Linked DNA regions of Homo sapiens. The protein of the gene in region 2 interacts with the protein of the main gene of each other region in a pairwise test. Each region holds a gene or a part of one and is shown on either strand. Other genes may lie near its edges.

Region 1 (7,111 bases), on a different chromosome or scaffold from region 2:
GATGTAGTAAACAACAGACCACATATACAACAGTGGTCCCGTAAGACTTTAGTATCATATTTTTACTCTACCTAGATGTTTATATACACAAATACTTACCATTGTGTTACAACTGCATATAGTATTTAGTAGTAGAGTAACATGCTGTATAGGTTTGTAGCCTAGGAGCAATAAGCTATAAGCTTAGCACACTCTTATGTTAGCACAAGGAAAAGAAAATCGCCTAATGATGTATTTCTCAGAGCACATCTTTGTCATTCAGTGATGCATGACTGTATATCATAAGTTCTCAAAGAAATAAAACTTAAATATAAACCTTGGTCTTCAAAACATTTAACAGTATTTAAAAAGAGAGAGATTTTACCCTTATTAGTTGTATTTGTTAAAGTCCCAGTAACTTGGTTGGTATAAGGATTGTGCTCAACCATACTTGCTCAACAAAGGAAAGTAAGATTTAATAAAGTCAACAAGTTTTTAAAAAATGAGGTTTTAGAGCTAAACTGAATTTAAAAAAAAAAACAAAAACTCACAAGCTCATTTGCCCAAATTCATCCTGTAAAGTCTGTAAGACTTCTGACAACTCCTCATTAATACCGTTGGAGGAGGGAGGTGTTACTGACAACTTCTTACTTTTACCACCTCGTGAAGATACTTGCTTTGCCAAAGGAATACTGTTGATGACTCGATCATTGCACAAAGCTTTACTGTGTTGCTTCATTAGATGCAAGACAAGCTGAACATTGGCTACCACGGCATGGCTAGGGCTTGTGGACTAAAGGAAGAAAAATGATGAAAGAAGTAATTGAAGTTATATTCTCTACACCACTTTCTATTCCCTAAGCCTAGGTAAAAAGAACTCTCCACCCCCTAAAGTAGAGTATATAAATCCTAAAATTATTCTCATCATGATGTTCTTCTATTTGAAATCCTTTGATATAAATCCACTAACTATGTTTCAGAATGGAAAATAAGGCCCTACATACACATCATTGAGCTGCAACCTACATTTCCTAGCCTCATGTCCTATCATCCTCCCCTTCTCTCCATTTTGTGAACAAACCATATTTGCAGATGACATTTTTTTGGTGTATTAGCAACATTTATATCATTCTTTAAAACCCAGTTCAAATATATTATTTTTAAAGGCTTCCTTAAAACTGCCAGGTAATCAATCAGTCCATTATCAGATCACCTATAACACTTTTTACATCTCTCTCATAGCATTTATCATATTTTAATTGCTTTTACATATCTATTTCACCTATTAAACAGTGTACATCCAGGTGGTAGACACTATTGTTCATTTCTGTATCCTGGAATAATAGGAAGCACTAAATTACATGTCTATCACGTGTGTAAGAAAAACCTGATAGACTTCTCAAAGATATTTTGCTTTTGTTTTAAACACTAAACCAACAATCTCAATGTACTATTCCACTTTATAAATAGATGGCTGGGCTTACTTGGCTCCATAAATATTATTAGAAAGCATATTTAAAATGCAGGTTCCTAGGCAGCACACCAAACTCACTGCAGAGTTAGGGTTTGGAAATTTGTGTTTTCAAGTCCTCCAGTTGATTTTGATTAGCCAGATTTGGAACCACCATGCTAAGCTAAACATATGCTTTCCTTCTAATCTTAGTTTCTATTGTTAGCTAGCAAAGTGAATGCAGCAGTATTATATATCACATCCAAGTGGGAGTTTATTACATCAATGCAAGGCTGGTCCACTATTCAAAAATCAATCGATGTAACCACTATTTTGCTCGTAACTTGTAATATATATTTAGCATACTAATTGCCTATGAGTACACTTTCAATATGCAATAATTTAAAAAATTCTCGTTCTGTTATTTTTCTGATTATATTAATATGCACTTGACCCTTGAACAATGGAGGGGTTAGGGGCACCGACCACCCATGTAGTCAAAACTCTGCCATAATGAAATTTTTTTTTCCTTCAACTTTTAAGTTCTGGCGTACATGCGCAGGTTTGTTATATAGGTAAATGTGTGTCATGGTGGTTTGCTGCACAGATCAACCCATCACCTAGGTATTAACCCCAGCATCCATTAGGTACTCTTCCTGATGCTCTCCCTCCCCGTTGACCAACTCCCCCACCAAACAGGCTCCAGTGTATGTTGTTCCCCACTATGTGTCCATGGGTTCTGATCATTCAGCTCCCACTTATGTAACTGAGAACTATAATAAATTTTGCCCTAAAATGTAATAGCCTGCTGTTGACTGGAAGCATTTTTGTTTTATGTATTGTAAGCAATATTCTAAAAGTAAAGTTAGAAAAAAATATTAAGAAAATCCTAAGGAAGAGAAAGTATATTTACTATTCATTAACTGGATCACCATACAGGCCTTCATCCCCATTATCTTCACTGTTGAGTAGGCAGAAGGGTAGGGTTGGTCTTGCTGTCTCAGGAGTGGCAGAGGCAGAAGAAGTGGAGGGGGAGGCAGGAGAGGCTAGCACATTCTGTGTAACTTTACAGAAATACACTATAATTTGTCTTGACTTTTCTGCTTTTTCATTTCTCTAAAAATGTTTCTATGAGATACCAATTCTTCCACCATTTGTTTTAGTTTCAGTGATGTATCATAGAAGGGTCGATGTCGTAAAAGTCAAAAGCAGGCTGGGCGCAGTGGCTCAGCCACTGGGATTACAGTGGGATTACAGAATCCCAGCACTTTGGGAGGCTGAGGCAGGTGGATCACCTAAGGTCAGGATTTCGAGACCAGCCTGGCCAACATGGAGAAACCCTGTCTTTACTAAAAAAATACAAAAATTAGCCAGGCATGGTGGCGCGTGCCTGTTGTCCAGGTACTTGGGAGGCTGAGGTGGGAGAATTGCTTGAACCCAGGAGGCAGAGGTTGCAGTGAGCTGAGATCGTGCCACTGCACTCCAGCCTGAGTGACAGAGCGAGACTCCGTCTCAAAAAAAAAAAAAAAAAAAAAGTCAAAAGCAGTCTTGAATAATTAGAACCCTTCTGTCAGATTATCTAATGTCAACTTGTTTTCTGACATTACTTCTGTGTTGTCTTCTTCATCTTGTGGCACTGGTTTGAAAGCACTCTTATCCATCCCAGTCATCTTCTGTTAATTCCTCTATCATGGTGTCTACTGACTCTTTAATTTCTCCAAAATTCGTATCTTGAAATCCTTCACCTCCAACCTTTTTTGCCATATCTACCATCTTTTTCATGATTGGCTTTGTCATAAATCCTGTGAAATCATGCATATCACCTGGAGAGTTTTCTCCAACAGGAATTTATTATTTCAGACTTGATGGCTTTCATGACTTTTTCTATAAAAATGATGGCATCATCTTCAACTGTAATCCTTCCAGACCCTCATAATGTTCTCTCTGAAGTTCTCTTCCACAGCATTAAGAACCCTTTTTATAGTGTATGTAATGTGCCTTAGAAGTCCTTATGCTCCCTGATCCAGAGGGTGAATTAGACACACTGTGTTTAGGGACAAGTAGACTACTTCCATGCCTTTGGTGTTGAACTTCCATGCTCCTGGGTAGCTAGGGGCAATGCCTAGTATTAAAAAGACTTTAAAAGGCAGTCTCTTACTGGCAAATTACTTCCTGACTTCAGGGACAAAGGATTGATGGATCAATGTTTTTTCTAAATCCAGTTTAGAAAAAGGGTTCTCAAAGGGTCATTCTTGTTGTAAACCCAAAGACTGGCAGTTGGGTATATTTCCCCTTGAAGGCTCAGGGATTAGCAGCTTTATAGATAAGGGCAGTCCTGATTGTAAATCGGATTGTGTTTTCACAAAATAGTAGATTTAGCCCGTCTCCTCTTTCCTTAAATCCTGGTGCTGACTTGTCCTCCTTACTTATAAATATCCTTCGTGGCATCATGTTTTTCCAGAATAGGGTACTTCTGTCTGCATTAAAAGCCTGTTCAGGAAGATACCCTTTCTCCTCAATGATTTTCTTAATGGTATCTTGGGATTCATCTGCTGCCTCTTGGTCAGCAGAAGCTGCTTCTCCTATCTTGACATTTTTAAAGCCAAACCTCTAAAATTATCAAGCCATCCTTTGCTGGAATTAAATTCTCCAGCTTTAGATACCTCACCTTCCTTTTAAGTTGTCATATAATGACTTTCCTTTTTCTCAAATCATATTAGAGTCTACAAGTATGCCTTTCTTATAGCAATCCTGCATCCACATAAAAGCTGCATTTTCAATGAGATAAAAAGCTATTTTGCAAAAAGCACAAGGTTTTGGCACCTGCTAGAGTAGCTGCAGTGACAGATTCACAATTTCCTTTTTTTTTTAAAAAAAATTTTTTAAAGAGGATCTTACTCTGTTGCCTATGCTGGAGTACAGTGGTGCCATCATCGCTTACTACAGTCTCGAACTCCTGGGCTACAGTGATCCTCTTCTGTCAGCCTCCTGAGTAGCTGGGACCACAGGTGCACGCCAACATGCCGGGATCATTTTTTTTTTTTTTTTTTTTTTTACAATAGGCCTTCAGCTGGATTCATTTATTTTGAAATGGTGGACAACCGCAGCTGCAGACCTCAATCTATGGTACATATCAAGCAATGCAACTTTTTCTTGTCATGTCATGACTTTTGTCTGCTTCTTGGGAGCACTTCCACCATCATTAGTAGCACTTGATATGGGTCCCATGATATTATTCAAATTATTTACTGTATTGTGCTAAACATGATGGAAAATATGGAACTGCTAGAGAACACTTTTTACTGTGATACACAATTGACTGGAGAGATGAACTGCTCATTTGAAGATGATTAGCGTCACGTGGCATTTTAAGTGAATACTCCCAACCCTTGAGCTCATCACAATGGCAACAGAAGGTGGCTACAAAATTATCAGTCGTACAGTATGTACTACAGTTAATTTTATACAGTTATGATTTCATACTGCATCTTTATCTCTGTTTACATTTCTCTGGACTGTGAATGGCGTCACGTAGTCTGTGTGCAAATTGTTTTGATAAATTATAATTAAAAAAAACTTGTGTATATTTTATGGTAGTAAATGATAAAATGCACTAGTATTGACATAGTCAATTTTATGCATCTATGACATACCAACTTTTTCTTAACTTCTGATATTTCTAAGCTATAGTTTGCAAGTTTTTTCAAATTGCCAAAAATCTCCAAAAAATTTTCCAAGATACTTATTGAAAAAAAAAATCTGCCTGTAAGTAGACCCACACAGAGTTCGGACTCATGTTGTTCAAGGGTCAACTGTACCTTTTTCAAATGCTTGTCACCACTAATTTATTATATTCCCCATGATTTCACTGCGAATTTACTAGGGGTTTAAAATAAATAAATATAAACAAATACAAAATTCAGAAGAACATTTACTTCCCAAGATGCCAGAATAACAATCTAGTTGGAATCTAAATATAAAACCACCAGCAACACAAACAGCTTATAAAGTAGTGTCAACTAGCACAGTTTTAGGCACTTCACTCAGTACTTGATATATGACAATACAGCTTTACATTCAAGTGCTGAAGAAACTGAAGATTCAAGTGTACGTATGACTGCTTCTTGGAGAATTAGTCCTAGAAATGATCTGGATGTGAGGACAAGCAGAATGTGCTACGTGCTTATTCGAATATCTACCTATATCTAAATGTAACTCAACAGGATTGATACTAAAAATCCAATGCTACAAACATACTATTTCTTATTTCCTTGACCCCTATCTGAAACAACACCTTCTTCAACTTAGGGTCTCTGTTTTATCACTTCCTTTCCACATATACTTTATCTACTTTAAGGTATCCTCCCCATCTCTTCCTTGCTTCCCTAATCCCCAAAAACCTCCCTACATCTCATTTTCACATCACTGTGATCCACACACTGGTAAAGGCACAGAAAAATGTTCCTTCCATTTGTAGACATACTTGCAGATGCAGGGACTTAATTCAGGGATCAATGTTGTATAAAAAGAATCCGGAGTTTGACCAACTCACCTTCCCAGCTACAAATGGCATATCACCCAAGCATAATCTATAATGTGGTTGTGCACCAAAATAGTTCCTAGAACTTTTCTGAATGAAAAGAAAAGGAAAACAATTTTATTTTATTCACATGATAATAAAAACTGACTATACATGACTAACTTGAAACTTCAGTTAACTACTAGGCTACTACTTGCCTTATCTATAGTTGGCATTATGATCACAAGCCAGCTCCTAATAGTACTTGTTAGCATATATCCTAGCCTAGGAAAGGCTGGGGGGAAAAAAGCACTTGACAAAACAACAGTTACATTCTAAGTAGAAAATCAGTATACATATACACAAAACATTGTAAGAGCACAAGATAATGCAGTACTAATAATGCTAATTTTGTATGGTGTTCTGTAGTTCCAAAATGCTTATATATTTTCTCACTATCAGGATAAAAATTTAGGAGTAGGTATTACTTATCTCCACCTTCTGAATGAAGAAATTGAGAATGAAAGATTTACTCTCTCAAGGTTGTAGTACACCACACAGTTTATGGGTGTTTTGACATAAACTATACCAAGTAATCAGCATTTTGCCTGATTTGGTTCTGTCTTCACACCTTTTCTGGTGGTTTTGACTTCTTTTTTTTAATTCTTCTTGCATTGGGAACACACGGAGTTGCCTTATCTTCAAAGATAAGTCTATTTGTTTCTAGACCAGTCTGCAACTAGGAAAAATGAGAGCCTCAAGTTAATGCTGTAGAAATAAAAGCTATGACTCAGATTTCAGATGTGTCATGTAAAAAGCCTGTAAAAACCAATGGTAGTATCTAACTGAAAAACATATTACAGCTGTATAACTATGTCTTGAACCAATCTATCAACGTTTGTCAAATATTTTAAATAAATACCAGTCTCTCATTTTATCTTGACCTTCTGTTATAATTTGTCCCTTCTTCAGCGTGGAACACATTATCTCCAGTATTTGTAGTTACTCCATAAATTCTATCTAACGAGTTAAATGCAATGTATCTAACCCCAAACCATTGCTTAAATATATTCTTTTCAAAAATGGCATCTACTACATTACCAGACACAAAACAGCCGAAGAGCAGAATACATTTCTTCCCTTTCTAAAAAGCCATGCACTTA
Region 2 (7,111 bases):
AATACAGCAGAAATGGGAGTCCCCCACCCCTACCCTTCTGGGCACTAGAAATTATTAAGAATATTAAGAGACCAGAAGTGAGTGGACTGAAAAGAACAAATTCTCCTGTAAAAGCTAGAATCAAACCAAGGTCTCTCAGCCACCCCTGATGGAATTCTGAGAGGGACACAATCCTAGAAAGTTCCAGAATTTGTGATCAATCATTCCAACCAGCCCTGTATGCTGTGACATCACACAGCTCAGAAGCTGGCCCTAGGCCAGGTGCAGTGGCTCACACCTATAATCTCAACACTTTAGGAGGCCAAGGTGAAAAGATCGCTTGAGCCCCAGAGTTAGAGATCAGCCCAGACAATACAGTGAGACTCTATCTCTATAAAATATAAAAATATTAGCTGGGCGACGTGGTGTGCACCTATAGTCCCAGCTACTTAGGGGGCCGAAGCAGGACAGCTTGAGCCCAGGAAGTTGAAGCCGCACAGTGAGCCATGTTTGTGCCACTGCCTCCAGCGTGGGCGACACAGCAAGACCCTGTTTCAAAAAAATAAAAAAACAAGAAGCAGCAGCAGCAGCAGCAGCCCCTGTCAGGAGTCCAGACCTGAGACTCAAGCACCAGCTCCATCCCTCCCTAGTTCAGAAGCCAACTACAACTCCAGTCCTGATGGACTTCTCACCTATTCCAACTTCAGCCTAGCTGGGCCTTAGTGACCTGCCGTATTTCACTCCCTCACTCTCCCTCTAGCTCTGACCCTCTCTTCCTTCCTACTCCGGCCCCACAATCCTCACCTCCCTCTAGGTTCCCATTCCTGCACAGGCTCAGACAGAGGAGCAAGGCGGGAAGGAATCAAACACATAATGCCCCGGGTGCAGAATGGTGAAGAAAATGGAACATCTCACTGTGTGACCTTTAGCAAGTCACCTCCCATCTCTGGGCCTTAGTGTATCTGCTAATGAAATACAATGTTTGGGGCTGGGCGTGGTGGCTCACGCCTGTAATCCCAGCACTTTGGGAGGCCGAGGTGGGCAGATCACCTGAGGTCAGGAGTTTGAGACCAGCGTGACCAATAGGAAGAAACCCCATCTCTACTGAAAATACAAAAAATTAGCCAGGCGTGGTGGTATGTGCCTGTAATTCCAGCTACTTGGGAGGCTGAGACAGGAGAATTGCTTGAGCCTGAGAGGTGGAGGTTGCAGTGAGCCAAGATGGCGCCATTGCATTCCAGCCTGGGCAACAAGAGCGAGACTCTGTCTCAAAAAAAAAAAAAAAAAAAAAAAAATGCTTGGATTAGGTGGCTACTAACATCCCTTACCAATTTAAAGCTCTATTATTCTTTTTTTTTTTTTTTTTTTTTTTTGTGAGACAGTTTCACCCTGTTGCCCAGGCTGGAGTGCGGTGGTGCAGGCTCAGCTCACTGCAACCTCCACCTCACTAGTTCAAGCAATTCTCCTGCCTCAGCCTCCCAAGTAGCTGGAACTACAGGTGCCTGCACCACACCGGGCTAATTTTTGTATTTTTAGTACTGACGGGGTTTCACCTTATTGTCCAGGCTGGTCTCAAACTCCTGACCTTGTGATCCACCCACCTCAGCCTCCCAAAGTGCTGGGATTACAGGCATGAGCCACCGCACCCAGTCAACTCTGTTATTCTTTGGGAGAGGTGGGACAGGATTAGGGGCTAGAGGGAAATGGGGAGTCCAGGTTTCATGCAACTGTGCAGTGTATGCGCATGTTGTTTGTATATTCATTCTGCATTGCTCAATGCCTAGAGGTAACTGCGAGTGGAGCAATATGATTGCATCCAGGTACATGCACATTCCAGGCACCTGTGTGGAAACGTGTGTGTGAGAGAGATGGTGAGGGTTTCTAAATGTGTGATTATACATGGTGGACATGTGTGCATCTATGTGCTGAAAAAGGGAGATTTGTGGGTACATGTGGATGTGAGTGCAGTGTGGGTACATGGGTAGACCCATGTGTGCTGGTGAGGTAGGGGTCACCGATGGGGAGTGGGGCTAAAGTGGGCGTAGTGATGGGCAGATGCTGCTGGGGGTCATACTAGGGAGGTGCCCTCTGGCCAAGGAGCCCTTGCTCTAACCCCTAGGCTTGCCTACTTATTCCTCCTGCCCTATGGTCACTCTCACTCCAGGTGGGGCAGATGGAGTTCAGCCACCCTTGGACTTTGGAGAGCTTTCTTTAAAGGGGCTCAAAACTTGGCCGGGCGCGGTGGCTCACGCCTGTAATCCCAGCACTTTGGGAGGCTGAGGCGGGCGGATCACGAGGTCAGAAGATCGAGACCATCCTGGCTAACACAGAGAAACATCGTCTCTACTAAAAATACAAAAACAAAATTAGCCCATCACGGTGGCAGGCGCCTGTAGTCCCAGCTATCTGGGAGGCTGAGGCGGAAGAATGGTGTGAACCCGGGAGGCGGAGCTTGCAGTGAGCCAAGATTGCGCCACTGCAGTCCAGCCTGGGCGACAGAGCAAGGCTTTGTCTCAAAAAAAAAAAAAATTGTTTCAGGGGGCTCAAAAACCTTCTAAAGAATTCCAGTAAGTGAAATAATAGTTACACTTACATAACTTCCTATGCTTTAAGCACTTTACATGCAGCAATACCTTTTCTCAAACAACCCTCTGATAGTTACTCTATTTTGCAGCTAACCTTTGGCTCAGAGGGACTAAGTAGGGAAGAAAACAAGGAAAAAGAAAGCCAAGCACAGTGGCTCACATCTGTAATCCCAGCACTTTGGGAGGCTGAGGCAGGAGGATTGCTTGAGGCCAAGAGTTTGAGACCAGCCTGGGCAGTATGGTGAGACCCCATCTCTACAAAACTTTTTTTTTAATTAGCAGAGCGTGGAGGCATGTGCCTGTAGTCCCAGCTACTGAGGAGGTTGAGGCAGGAGGATCGCTTCAGCCCAGGAGGTTGAGGCTGCAGTGAGCTATAATCCTGCCACTGCACTCTAGCCTGGGTGATAGAGCAAGACTTCATCACTACAAAAATAAATTTAAAATTAAATAAGAAGGAAAAAAAGAATCTTCACAATTTAGATCTAGAGGAGGGCAGGACTGAGGCCCAGAAACAGGTGAAGAGTTTGGACAAGGTAAGAATAAGACTGGGAACAGGATCAAGGCCCTTCCTTCCTTACTCCAGGCTGGTCTGGTTGATCTCTTACAGCTGAAATCACAGCAGGAAGGACTGCATTTAGACTCCACAAGAGACTTCCAAGGGGTTATGCAGAATGCCACATGCCAATGGTCAAAAACAGGGCCCAATACATCTCAGGACAGGACACACCAACCAGGACCATGCAGCCTCAACCCCATCACATCTACTCTGTGGCAGACCCTGAGGATGGATGAGACCTTCACTGCCCTCCTGGGGCTCAGATAGAGACATGACCACAGCCAAGTTAGCATCTGACATGTTTAAATACAACGGAGTGTGAGGCAGGCATGCAGAGCCAACAGAGGACTCACACCTTATAGTGCCCTTCTGCTGAGAAGCAATGACTGAACTGAGGACAGCCCTCCTCCCTTCAGAAGCCACCCGACTCACAAAGCTTATAAATGGGCTGGGGAATGACTCTCCATAAATGCACTGGGCAGTTTCCTCCCACCCCAGTCTGGAATGTGGCCCATGGCCAGGGGAGCCTCTCAGGGAATTAGTCTCCAAACCACAAACATTGCTTGTGATCCACAGGGCCCTGGCCCAGGAAGAAACTCAAACCTGACCCCAAAGCCCTGGGGATCTTCTGGATTGACATCAGGCAAGTCCAGGTTCGGTATTTGAAAAGGGAAAATGTGAGCAACAGTCCTGAGTGACGCAGGTTGCAGAATGTACATCCTAGATCCTGCCTACAATTCCCACAAAGTTCCCTTGTTGACATGATCATCATAGCAGGAGCTGGAGAAAATTGGGCTTGAATAGCAGAGAATCTCATGATCCCCTAGCAAAATGCAAGGAGCACAGAGCTGGACTAAAGAATCTTGAAAGAATCTTCAGGCAGCTTGTTTGCATTTGCGAGTGTTGGCAGGTCAGTATTTATCAACCAGGGCTGATGTGTGAGCCCAGTGGGGTCATGCCCCCTACCCCTCAGGAGGGTGGCATCCGGCTAGCCAAGTTTCAGTCCCATTCCTCTTGCATGAGACTTTTCTGTTTACACAAGAAGAGGGCCTTTTGGATACCTGTCCTCTGGGCAGGCACCCAGAAGAACACAGCAGACACTCTGGCACTAGAGTGCCTTAAAAAGTAAAGCCCAAGCCTCTGGCCAATGACGCACTTCAGCCCCACCCAGGGACATAGAAAGCAGAAACTATTGTTGCATTGATGATGTAATTTCATGCAATAGAAAGGAATGTGGGCTCACTGTACAGAAGCTTCTCTTGGGTCTGTGTGGCAGGGAAAGAACCCAGAAATCCAGCCTTTATCTAGCCACCCCACTCTATCTTCCGACCACCAAAATCCAATGCCTTGTAAAAACTCGGACCAACTTACACCCTGGATCTGAAGTAGAGACAGAGCTGGAGCCTCCGTCTGATTTCACAGCCCACAATTTCCTCCACCATAGTGTGTTGTTCCTCTGCCCGCCACCAGATCATATTAACACAACTCGGTGGCCCAATTGTGTGTTAAACCAGAACCCAAGCTTGGGCCACCCAATTGTGTTCATCTCTCTCCAGCCCCCATCTGCAAGGGCCACCTGTCTTCAAATGCCCCATCAGGGTGATAGAAGGCACTGGCCCAATCCCCATCTCACCCTTTTCTGTTTCTGCTCGGTTTCCTCGTCTATGGCCCACCTCCCTACCCAGAACCTCATCTCCAGGAATCCTAGAGTGTCTTCCTCACCATCCTGTCCCCTGAACCAAGCACTATGAGGCCATTCAGTAAGTATGTGTAGAGTGAATGGATGGATGGAGAATGGAATTCTCAGCTCTGCTGCCCAGAAGCTATGGGCCCCAGGCTAGACTCTTCTGCATGAATGAACCCTTTCTCTCGCTTTCCCCATGGACTCCGGGCTCCCCATCCTAAAGACTCTGGTTCTATAATATCGAATCATCATATACTTAAGTCACATAGACCCTCACAGCAGGAGGGGAGGAGGTTGCTTCCTGGTACTGTTCTCGCCCTGACCCCTCCACCGCAGCCAGGTTTGTCTGTGCTCTGGGAATGGCCTGGAGAATCCGGGTTTAAACTCCTGGCAGCTCAGACCACTCCACAACTTTTTATTGCAGAGAAGTCCCTGGAAAGAAGGGGTGGGAACAGTTCAGAGGGGCAGGGTTCTTGGTCCAGGTAAGCTGGCCACCTCTACCCAATGGCACCAGCGTCCAGGCCATCTGCACTGGGGATGGTCAGTCATAGTCCTGTAAGCTGTGCTCCAACGCCTCACGTCCCGGTGTGGGAGGCAAAAAGGAAAGATGATGTGGGGTCAGCTCTATGGGAGGGGGCATCTGACACAAGAGGGCTAAGTCTTTAGGGCAGAAGCTGAGGGTTCCTTGTCTTCTCCGGAGGGAGGCGGGAAGGGTTCAACATCTGCGGGAGCTGTGTAGCTAAAGCCCACGGACACAGCCGGGAGAGCCGCAGAGCGCGTAGCCGCCGCCAGGGGCGCTCGTCTCCAGGGCGCCGGAGCCTGCTCGGGGCTGGAGCAGGCAGGCGGAGCCCGGCTGAACGGAGGACGACTGTCCGAGGGAGGAAAGCCCTTCCTCCCCCCACCCCAAGCCCCAGAAGACAGACTTGCAGACATCTCCTCCAGATACACAGACCCTCCTCCCCACCAGGAGACAGATGTACAAACTCCCCGAAAGGAACAGGTAAACAGACCTCTCCCCAGAGAACAGACCACAGGACCCCCTTCCCCACACACGCAAACGCAGTCACCCCCGAGAGAAGAAATAGCCCCCGACAAAAGGAGAGGCACAGAGGGAGCTGTCACAGACACAGGAACAGAAACACAGCCCTTCTGCCTTCTCAAGAGGAGGCACGCCAAGGTGTGGACGGGGAAGGAGGGAATAAGGAGAATAAGATAATAAGATAAGATCCGACCATGCCAGCCTACTGTTTACTTACTGATGCTCCTTGCCCCAAATCCCAGACCAAGCCAGCGGAAAGAAGGAAGCAGGTGAGTCCATCTGTCTACTAGGTTTGGTATTCTGCATTCCCCAGGACACACACTCCTGACCCTCCCAGACAGCAGTCCTTCCACCCTGCAAGCTCCCTGGCGCTCTCTGATCACTCCTGCCTTAAATTCATATAACTCACTTTTGTTGATGACTTTTTGGAGGAAAGAGAAGACCAAAAAAAAAAAAAAAAAAACTACACTTTCTTTGGCCTGACTTGATCTTGGAAGGTGAGACCGTGAGGGAACATTTTAAACCTCTACAGGAGACCCCAGAGCAGGTAGCTCCATAATCTGAAGACTAGTGTGTGTCCCTAAAGCTGTCACTTAACCTCTCTGAAACTTACCCCTCATCTGTAAAATGGGGATAATAGGACCTCCCTGCCAGGGTTTTGTGAGGTGTTAAAGGAGGTGATCAATGCAATATGCCTGTGGCATGGGTGATCAGTTCCCCCTCCCTCCCCTAGCCTGGTGACAGCCCTTGTCTCCTACTGTTGTCTACTGAGTTGAAAGCCAAGCCCCACCTGGTCATGTAACCCCACCTTCCCCAGGCCTGGGGAGAGGGGCAGAGTTGAGAAGAAGGCACTTCACACAGAGACCTTATTCCCACTGGCTAGGCCTTGGTCCCTGCAGCTGTCTCCATGGACAAACCGGCCCCTGGTCTCTGATACTGGGGTGGATGACTATGGGTCACCCCGTCCCAGGTGCCAAAAGTACACATCAGCTAGAACTTTTTGTTCAAAGGGCTGTAAGATGGTGAGAGAAACCTAGCTCTAGAGGAACGAGTTCCTGGATACCTAGGTCATCTCTCTCCACCCTTCCCTGGCTGATGAGCGTGGTGCTGCCCTGTGCCCCTGCACTCCTCACTGCAGCCACATCTGAAGCACTTCCCAGCTGACCCATCATCCACTCTCTTCACCCTCCAGCAGCTTGTGGCAGGCAGCAATCTCAAAGTCCAGGCCCCACTTGACGATCACAGCTCTCAGTACTCACACAGCTGCT
Region 3 (7,041 bases), on a different chromosome or scaffold from region 2:
GCTTCAGGACAGACAAAGCCATCTAAAGCAGTCTGAAGCACTGAATTCCTATTTTAAACAGGGAATGGTAAATGGTCTTGCCAGGGATGCCCCTTTTCCACTGTTTTCCTGGAGAGCTCTTCTCCACCTGCCTTAGGACTCACAGTTCAAGCATCCCTTCCTCTGTGAAGCCTTTCCTTTTTTTTTTTTTTTTGAGACGGAGTCTTGCTCTGTTACCCAGGCTAGAGTGCACTGGCAGGATCTGAGCTCACTGCAACCTCAGCCTCCCGGGTTCAGGCGAGTCTCCTGCCTCAGCCTCCCGAGTAGCTGGGATTACAGACATGCACCACCACGCCCGGCTAATTTTTGTATTTTTAGTAGAGATGAGGTTTCACCATCTTGACCAGGCTGGTTTCGAACTCCTGACCTAGTGATCCATCCGCCTTGGCCTCCCAAAGTGCTGGGATTACAGGGGTGAGCCACCATGCCTGGCCTGTGAAGCCTTTCCTAATTCCTCTGAACTGACTTAGGTCGCCTCCCCTGTGCTTCCATTAACAACGTACACATACTTCTACAGCAGCACTTACCACACCGTGTTTTAATTGTTTACATGTCTGACTAGCCATAAGCTCTTTGATGGCAAGGGTAATGTTTTACCCATCACTGATTGCACACTTCATAGGCACTCAATAAACACTTGTTAAATGCATTAATAATGGATGATATTGGAAGTCTTAAAGAATGGCAACTATACTTTCTGGATTCCAGACCAAAATTACAGTAAGAATTAACAATGAAGGCTAAACTCTCATTATATGTTTCTACTACATATATCATTCCTGGCCAGAAAAAGAGGCCAAAGATTGGAGAAGATTGCTCTAACAGTGCTGGTCACTGCCAAGCTACCAGCCAAGAATAAGAGCACTTGCAGTATTAAGAATGAACAGAGTCATATCTAAGGCAATTTCTACATTTCAGGCTTCTTTGCCTGCCTCAGGAGAATAGAAACAATGATGAATAAGAGACCTTGGAAGGGTCACAATGTCCACCATCACAAAACCTTGTAGCAAACTGTGATTCAACACAACTTCTGCTGAAATATACAGGAAAGCTCTTCACCTTCTTACCAAATCTACTCAAAGTTCTGCTAAGGAACACAGGGCTGAACTAAGTCCTCCCAGAACCCTGCCATTTGTACAGTGGCATTCTAAATCATTCCTCATGGGATTTACTCATCACTGAAGAGATACAGGCAAAGCAATACAATGCTGTGGTCTCAAATGCCTCTCCCTGTAACAACCTTGTACCTCACAACCCTATTGGGTTTACAGGCTACTAATAAGACACAAAATCTGATCTGATCCTGTGGGAGTAAAGCCCTGGATTCCCTCAAGGGATTAAATAAATGTCGACTACTTCTGGATTCCCAAAGTTGTGGGGTTTATTTAGTTGAAAAAGCATAAGGACCAAAACACAGACAAGTGAAGCGATGGAAAGGAACTTTGCCTCTGAGGATCATCTGCAGCTGAGTGGGATGTGGCTCTTGGCATATAGTGAATGAGATAAGCAATGCTCAAGGGCCATCCAGAACTGTTTTGCTGACAGATATCTGGCTTCTTGCATGTTATTCCTAAGAAGCCAAAAGGCTCCAGTTAGCCTCTTGAAGAGACAAAAAAAATTTGTTTTCACCGTAGGCAAGAGCAATTACCAAGCCAGTAACTCTGACTAGGTGTTTTAGCATATTTCTTTCTGCCACTACAGTCTTACATAACCCCAGCTGTTACGTTAACACCTGCAGCTACATTAGTCACAGCTTAGCCCTTCACAAGGTATGTGTTCCTACTGTCCTCTCCCAAGAAGGGAAACTGAGTCATAGCATATCAACTGGCTTCCCAAGCACATGCTTAGTGTATAGTGAGGCCACAATTGAACCCAGGTGGTCTTCCTACTATTCACCTTTTCTCATGGATGAATCTCAGCATGCCCACCCCTGCTGCTCTTTTTCCTTCAACCTAAAACCAAATCATTGCCTGCAGAGATCATATGTGATCCTTTAGAGTCAACAAGGGCTTCTAGTTATCTTTCCCAAGAAACAGGAAGGTTAACGAGGAACATGGAGCAGGAGAGGGTGGGTTTGGAAAGAGGTGGATCCCAACAGGACTCACCTTGGAGCTGAGGTCCTCTCGTCGGTTTCCTGCCTTACTCCTGCGCAGTTTGATGGATGGAGATCTCAACAGATTCTTGATCCGGCTGGTAATGGTTGACCCTTCCACAGCCATTATGACGAGAAACCCTTTGGGACAGTCCCCGGCCCAGTCCTGGGTCTTGTCTCAACAGCGGCACTGTCTTCCCACTCCAGAGGGCTTCCCAGTATGCCCTCTCACTGACCTGAGATGGCAGAAGCCACCTTAGTATCACAGTGTCTTACCTTCTGCCTAGCGAAGTCTGCAGCTTTTACCTCTGGGTATTGCTCTCACCATTTCCCTCATCCCCACCTTCTAGCCCTGCACAGTTTCTTACAACGTCGGAAGGAAAGGCTCACGAAAAAGGGGGGGAAAATCCTAAGCCACGAAGAAATGCCAGGCCCACGCCCGCCAGAGGCGTTTAACTGGCGAGATGGATGGGATGGGCCCCAGTTGGTCTCGTGGACGATCTGGTTCCCGTTAATGCCCAACTGTTCCCATGGCAACTGTAGTGTCCAAGGGAGGAGGCCGCCGAGACCACCAGGGATTTCCGCAGGCCTGGACACCTGCGCTAGCGCCGGCGGGGACGCGGCGGGGCTCGCCGTAGCCCACAACTCGTTCTGCCACGGGAGCCTCCCTCCCCCACTCCCTATCCTCCAGAGCTCGCTCTCCGCCCTCCACAGCGGCTCTGGACCTTTATCTTTCACCCGCCTCTGAGGCCCCTGCTACTCGTCAGCGCCCCCGTTCGGGCCCAGCCTCACCAGCCTCGGCGAGCTAAGGCCACCCCGCTCACAGCGCCCTCGGGCATCGCGTTCGGCAATTTCAGCTCCGCCGCGGTAGCCGCAGCGGTAGAGGCAGCAGCAGGAGCTATGGTGGCACGATCGGCTCAAAACGCGAACTACCGCCTGGGCCAAGCCGCGGGCTGGGTGGGCGGAGCCGACGCGAGGGGCGCGGCCTGTAGTCAGGAGAGCGCTTCCAGAGTGGACGAGCAAGGTTTACGGGGGCGGAGCCAATGAAAGGGCCCAGGAAGCAGACGGCTTGGGACTAGGGAACCACGGAATCCGCACAATTGCGGGTACCGCTTTTAGAGGAAGGTCAACAGAACATGGCTTCAGAATTGAGAGAACCAAGCCTTTTATGGTATTATCAGGCCTGGTCCCCCATGGAACTGCACTTCCCAGAGCCCCAAGACGATAACCACGCCTCCAGGGTGTTAAGGTTGTCATCTGATAGGCCCGAGGGACCGTAGCTGAAACTCCTAGCTCAGAATTACAAGACTGAGCTACAGCCTAAAAGCTCTGCTCCCAGCGACCACAAGTGTTGAGATTTAAAGCGACTGAAGTAGTTTCTGCTCGCAGCCAGTCCGGCACGTAGACTCAACGTGGAAAGGATTATTCTGAGTAATGCAATTTAATAGCTAAGAACAGTATTTTTGCACTGGGCAACCTGGTCATCATGAAAGGGGAAAGGGTGGCCTTGAACAGAGCTTTGGGCGTGCGGGGGAAAGAGAAGTGAATATGCTATGTTATAATACTTTAGGTTTCATGGCTTCTTTAGCCTCCAACATCCCATTGTGCTTCCTCACCTAAAGCTGACCAGGACTTTGTTGCTCCAGATCTTTTCCTCATTCCATTTACTTATGAATCCTTTTATCTAGGGCTGTTCCTTGCTGAGGTCACTGTCGAGCTTGCTGATACTAGATCGAGGGGTAGTTTTCTAACTCATGTCGGGGGAGGCAGAGGGAATACACGGAAATGTTACATGAAATAGTATTTCCTGAGTATTCTCCACTTGACTACTACCACAAGAAATCACCTTATGAAAAAGCCTAAGCCAGAGACTTGGGTCCCAAGGGAATAGTACACTGGTGTGTCCGTCTCACCCTATCCAGATCTTTTGAATCCCTGTGGAGATGACATGTGTCTGCAAGAGGGAAGAACCTCTAACAAATTATTATACCTTATGAAAAAGCCTAAGCCAAAGACAAGGGACCCAAGGGAGTACTACACTGGTGTGTCTGTCTCACCCTATCCAGATCTTTTGAAACCCTGTGGAGATGACATGTGATAACAAGAGGGAAGAACCCCTAAACTCATTGCTTGTGTACAACGGTGAGCCTTTAGAGCCAAGTGGCAAAGCACATATTTTCTTGTGTATACTGTAGCCACGTACTGAAAATTAGATTTGTAAAGCTCACAAGTTGACATGGAGATGATGGATGTCACCTCCTGGAGACCAACTGGCAATAGCACGTGGCCTTCTTCCCTTCAACCATGCACTGCAAATATTATGAAACAGAAAATACGATTTTCAAATTTATTTCCCAAGTCTGGAAGAAGAAGGCAAGAACCATTAGCTACAATATGCAAGAGGTAGTTGGTTCCTTCAACCTCTTGGTAGTTACATGATGGGACCTCTCCATGGGATTGAAAGCTAATAAATGGTGCCACCTGGTGTCTTTACTTGCATGCTGCAGACCACGGCAGATGCCATCTCCACCCATGAAACTAGAGTAAAAATGTGCCCACAAGAGCCGTCCCTAATCCTCTCCAGATCATTCTGGTGTCCGCTAACGGTTTTCTCACCTGATCACTCATGGCCAGATAAATGGTTTACAAAGTATCACTGGTCATTTCTTTCATGAAAAACAACTGAAAGCATTTTAATGAGGATTTCTTAAGTCTGGAATCTGGGTACTTCCAGTCTTAGGCCAAAGCCACGCTTTTTTTTTTTTTTTTTTTTTTTTTTTAAACAGAGTCTTGCTCTGTCCCCAGACTGGACTGCAGTGGCGATCTCAGCTCACTGCAACCTCCGACTCCTGGTTTCAAGCCATTCTCTTGCCTCAGCCTCCCGAGTAGCTGGGATTACAGGCACGCGCCACCACACCCAGTTAATTTTTGTATTTTTAGTAAAGATGGGGTTTCACCATGTTGGCCAGGAGGTCTCGATCTCCTGACCTCGTGATCCGCCTGCCTTGGCCTCCCAAAGTGCCAGGATTACAGGCGTGAGCCACCATGCCCGGCCCACACATTTTTAATTCTTCACAATTCAGTCCAACTTTTATTGTCTAGGTACTACACTGCCTTTGAGATACCAATATAGGAATAAGCTATATAGGCTATTCCCATTCTTCATTAATTCCTCAGAAAATAACAGTCCCAGGTCTAATGTGAACAGAAGCATTATTCACTTTTCTCCACTCAGATTTACAGTCATGCACTGTATACATTTCAATGACCACATGATCCCATTAAATTATAATATCATATTTTTACCATACCTTTCCTATGTGTAGACACACAAACACCACGTGTTACAACTGCCTATGATATTCAGTGCAGTTAACATGCTGTACAGAGTTGTAGCCTAGGAGCAACACAGCCTAGGTGTGTGGTTAAGCAACACCATCTAGGTTTGTTTAAGTACAGTACACTCTATGATGTTTGCAGAACAAAACCACCCAAGGTGCATTTCTCAGAACGTATCCCCATCATTAAGTGACGCATGACTCTACTTGCCATCCCAATCCTCCAAAATGCAGTTAACTCTTCATAAGTATTTCATCATCCATACACTATTTAACACTTTATTCTACTTTTATATGTCCTAAACATCTATACATAGTGTTTGCCAGCTTCTGAAATTCTAGATGTCTGGGGAATAGACGTTATATAGTTGTCTGTTTAGCACTATACTCATTAGATCAAATTTTAAAATTCACCCTAGGCATAACATGCAAATAAGGTATAAGTTCCTGGGAAACAGTCTAAACATTTGCTCATCAATTCAAATATTTATTGAGCACCTTTACATGCAAAGGCACTGTGCAACAGCTGAGATCAATGATTGCAGTTGGAAACACAATGGATCTCAAAACCATGCTTCCAAGACTGCTTTCCTACTTAATATCTTTTCTACCAGCAGAGTTTACAACAATAGAAATTAGTAGAGTTTAGATTTGTCTCAAAATTTCCAACTCATCCCATAGTCTTCCCATCCTCTTAATGCACCACCATCACTATTCAACACTTATGTGTAGAACAGCTCAGTCATGTCTAACATTAGCTACACCTCAAACAAAAAGTTGTACTTATCAAATTATTTCCCTCTATTCCAAAAAATGCGTTATAACTGATTTTTTTCCTCCAACTGGCAGTGAGTCTGAATATCTCAGCTTTAATTTTCCCTGCACCTAGATATTTGTGTCCATGTAAAATTTCATTAGTAGGCCGGGCGCAGTGGCTCACGCCTGTAATCCCAGCACTTTGGGAGGCCGAGGCGGGCGGATCACAAGGTCAGGAGATTGAGACCATCCTGGCTAACATGGTGAAACCCTGTCTCTACAAAAAAATACAAAAAAATTAGCCGGGCACAGTGTCGGGCGCCTGTAGTCCCAGCTACTCCGGAGGCTGAGGCAGGACAATGGCGTAAACCCGGGAGGCAGAGCTTGCAGTGAGCCAAGACGGCACCACTGCACTCCAGCCTGGGCGACAGAGTGAGACTCTGCCTCAAAAAAAATAAAAATAAAAATTTCATTAGTGATAATACAGTGACATGAAGTACTGATGCCTTTACAGCACCTTCTTCAAAACCAACAGTTTTGTGCAAGAAATGTATTCTGATTCTTGGTTATCAGTCATTCTCTATAAAAGTACCTGGAAAATGTGCTGTGTATGGTTTGTTGTTGTTTAATTCTGGAGTGAGGGACAAGGGCTGTCACTATTTTCTAGACCCGTTTTTAAAGTGCATCACCCTATTTGATTTCAAATATCTCAACCAGTATAGTTAGAAAAAAAATTATCTAAACCACTAAACCAAAAATAACATATGGATTGTCTGCCTTTCTTGTGTGTTCAAAACATTTTCAAACTTGTTATAG

What was found.
Region 1: the proteins of KRT86 (region 2) and CEP57 interact in binary tests that used the Homo sapiens proteins (3 or more experiments, as listed by UniProt).
Region 3: the proteins of KRT86 (region 2) and MAPKBP1 interact in binary tests that used the Homo sapiens proteins (3 or more experiments, as listed by UniProt).

Annotation. Positions count from the first base shown.
Region 1 is NC_000011.10:95,821,447-95,828,557, reverse strand, and holds part of CEP57 (centrosomal protein of 57 kDa), read right to left. Parts: intron 6,688-7,111; coding exon 6,580-6,687; intron 6,574-6,579; exon of another isoform or gene 6,224-6,573; coding exon of another isoform or gene 6,167-6,223; intron 6,060-6,166; coding exon 5,982-6,059; intron 773-5,981; coding exon 531-772; intron 1-530. UniProt on the Homo sapiens protein: Centrosomal protein which may be required for microtubule attachment to centrosomes. May act by forming ring-like structures around microtubules. Mediates nuclear translocation and mitogenic activity of the internalized growth factor FGF2, but that of FGF1.
Region 2 is NC_000012.12:52,277,634-52,284,744, reverse strand, and holds part of KRT86 (keratin, type II cuticular Hb6), read right to left. Parts: intron 5,805-7,111; exon of another isoform or gene 5,589-5,804; intron 1-5,588.
Region 3 is NC_000015.10:41,770,493-41,777,533, reverse strand, and holds the start of MAPKBP1 (mitogen-activated protein kinase-binding protein 1), read right to left. Parts: upstream 3,051-7,041; 5' UTR 2,924-3,050; intron 2,368-2,923; 5' UTR 2,259-2,367; coding exon 2,145-2,258; intron 1-2,144. UniProt on the Homo sapiens protein: Negative regulator of NOD2 function. It down-regulates NOD2-induced processes such as activation of NF-kappa-B signaling, IL8 secretion and antibacterial response. Involved in JNK signaling pathway.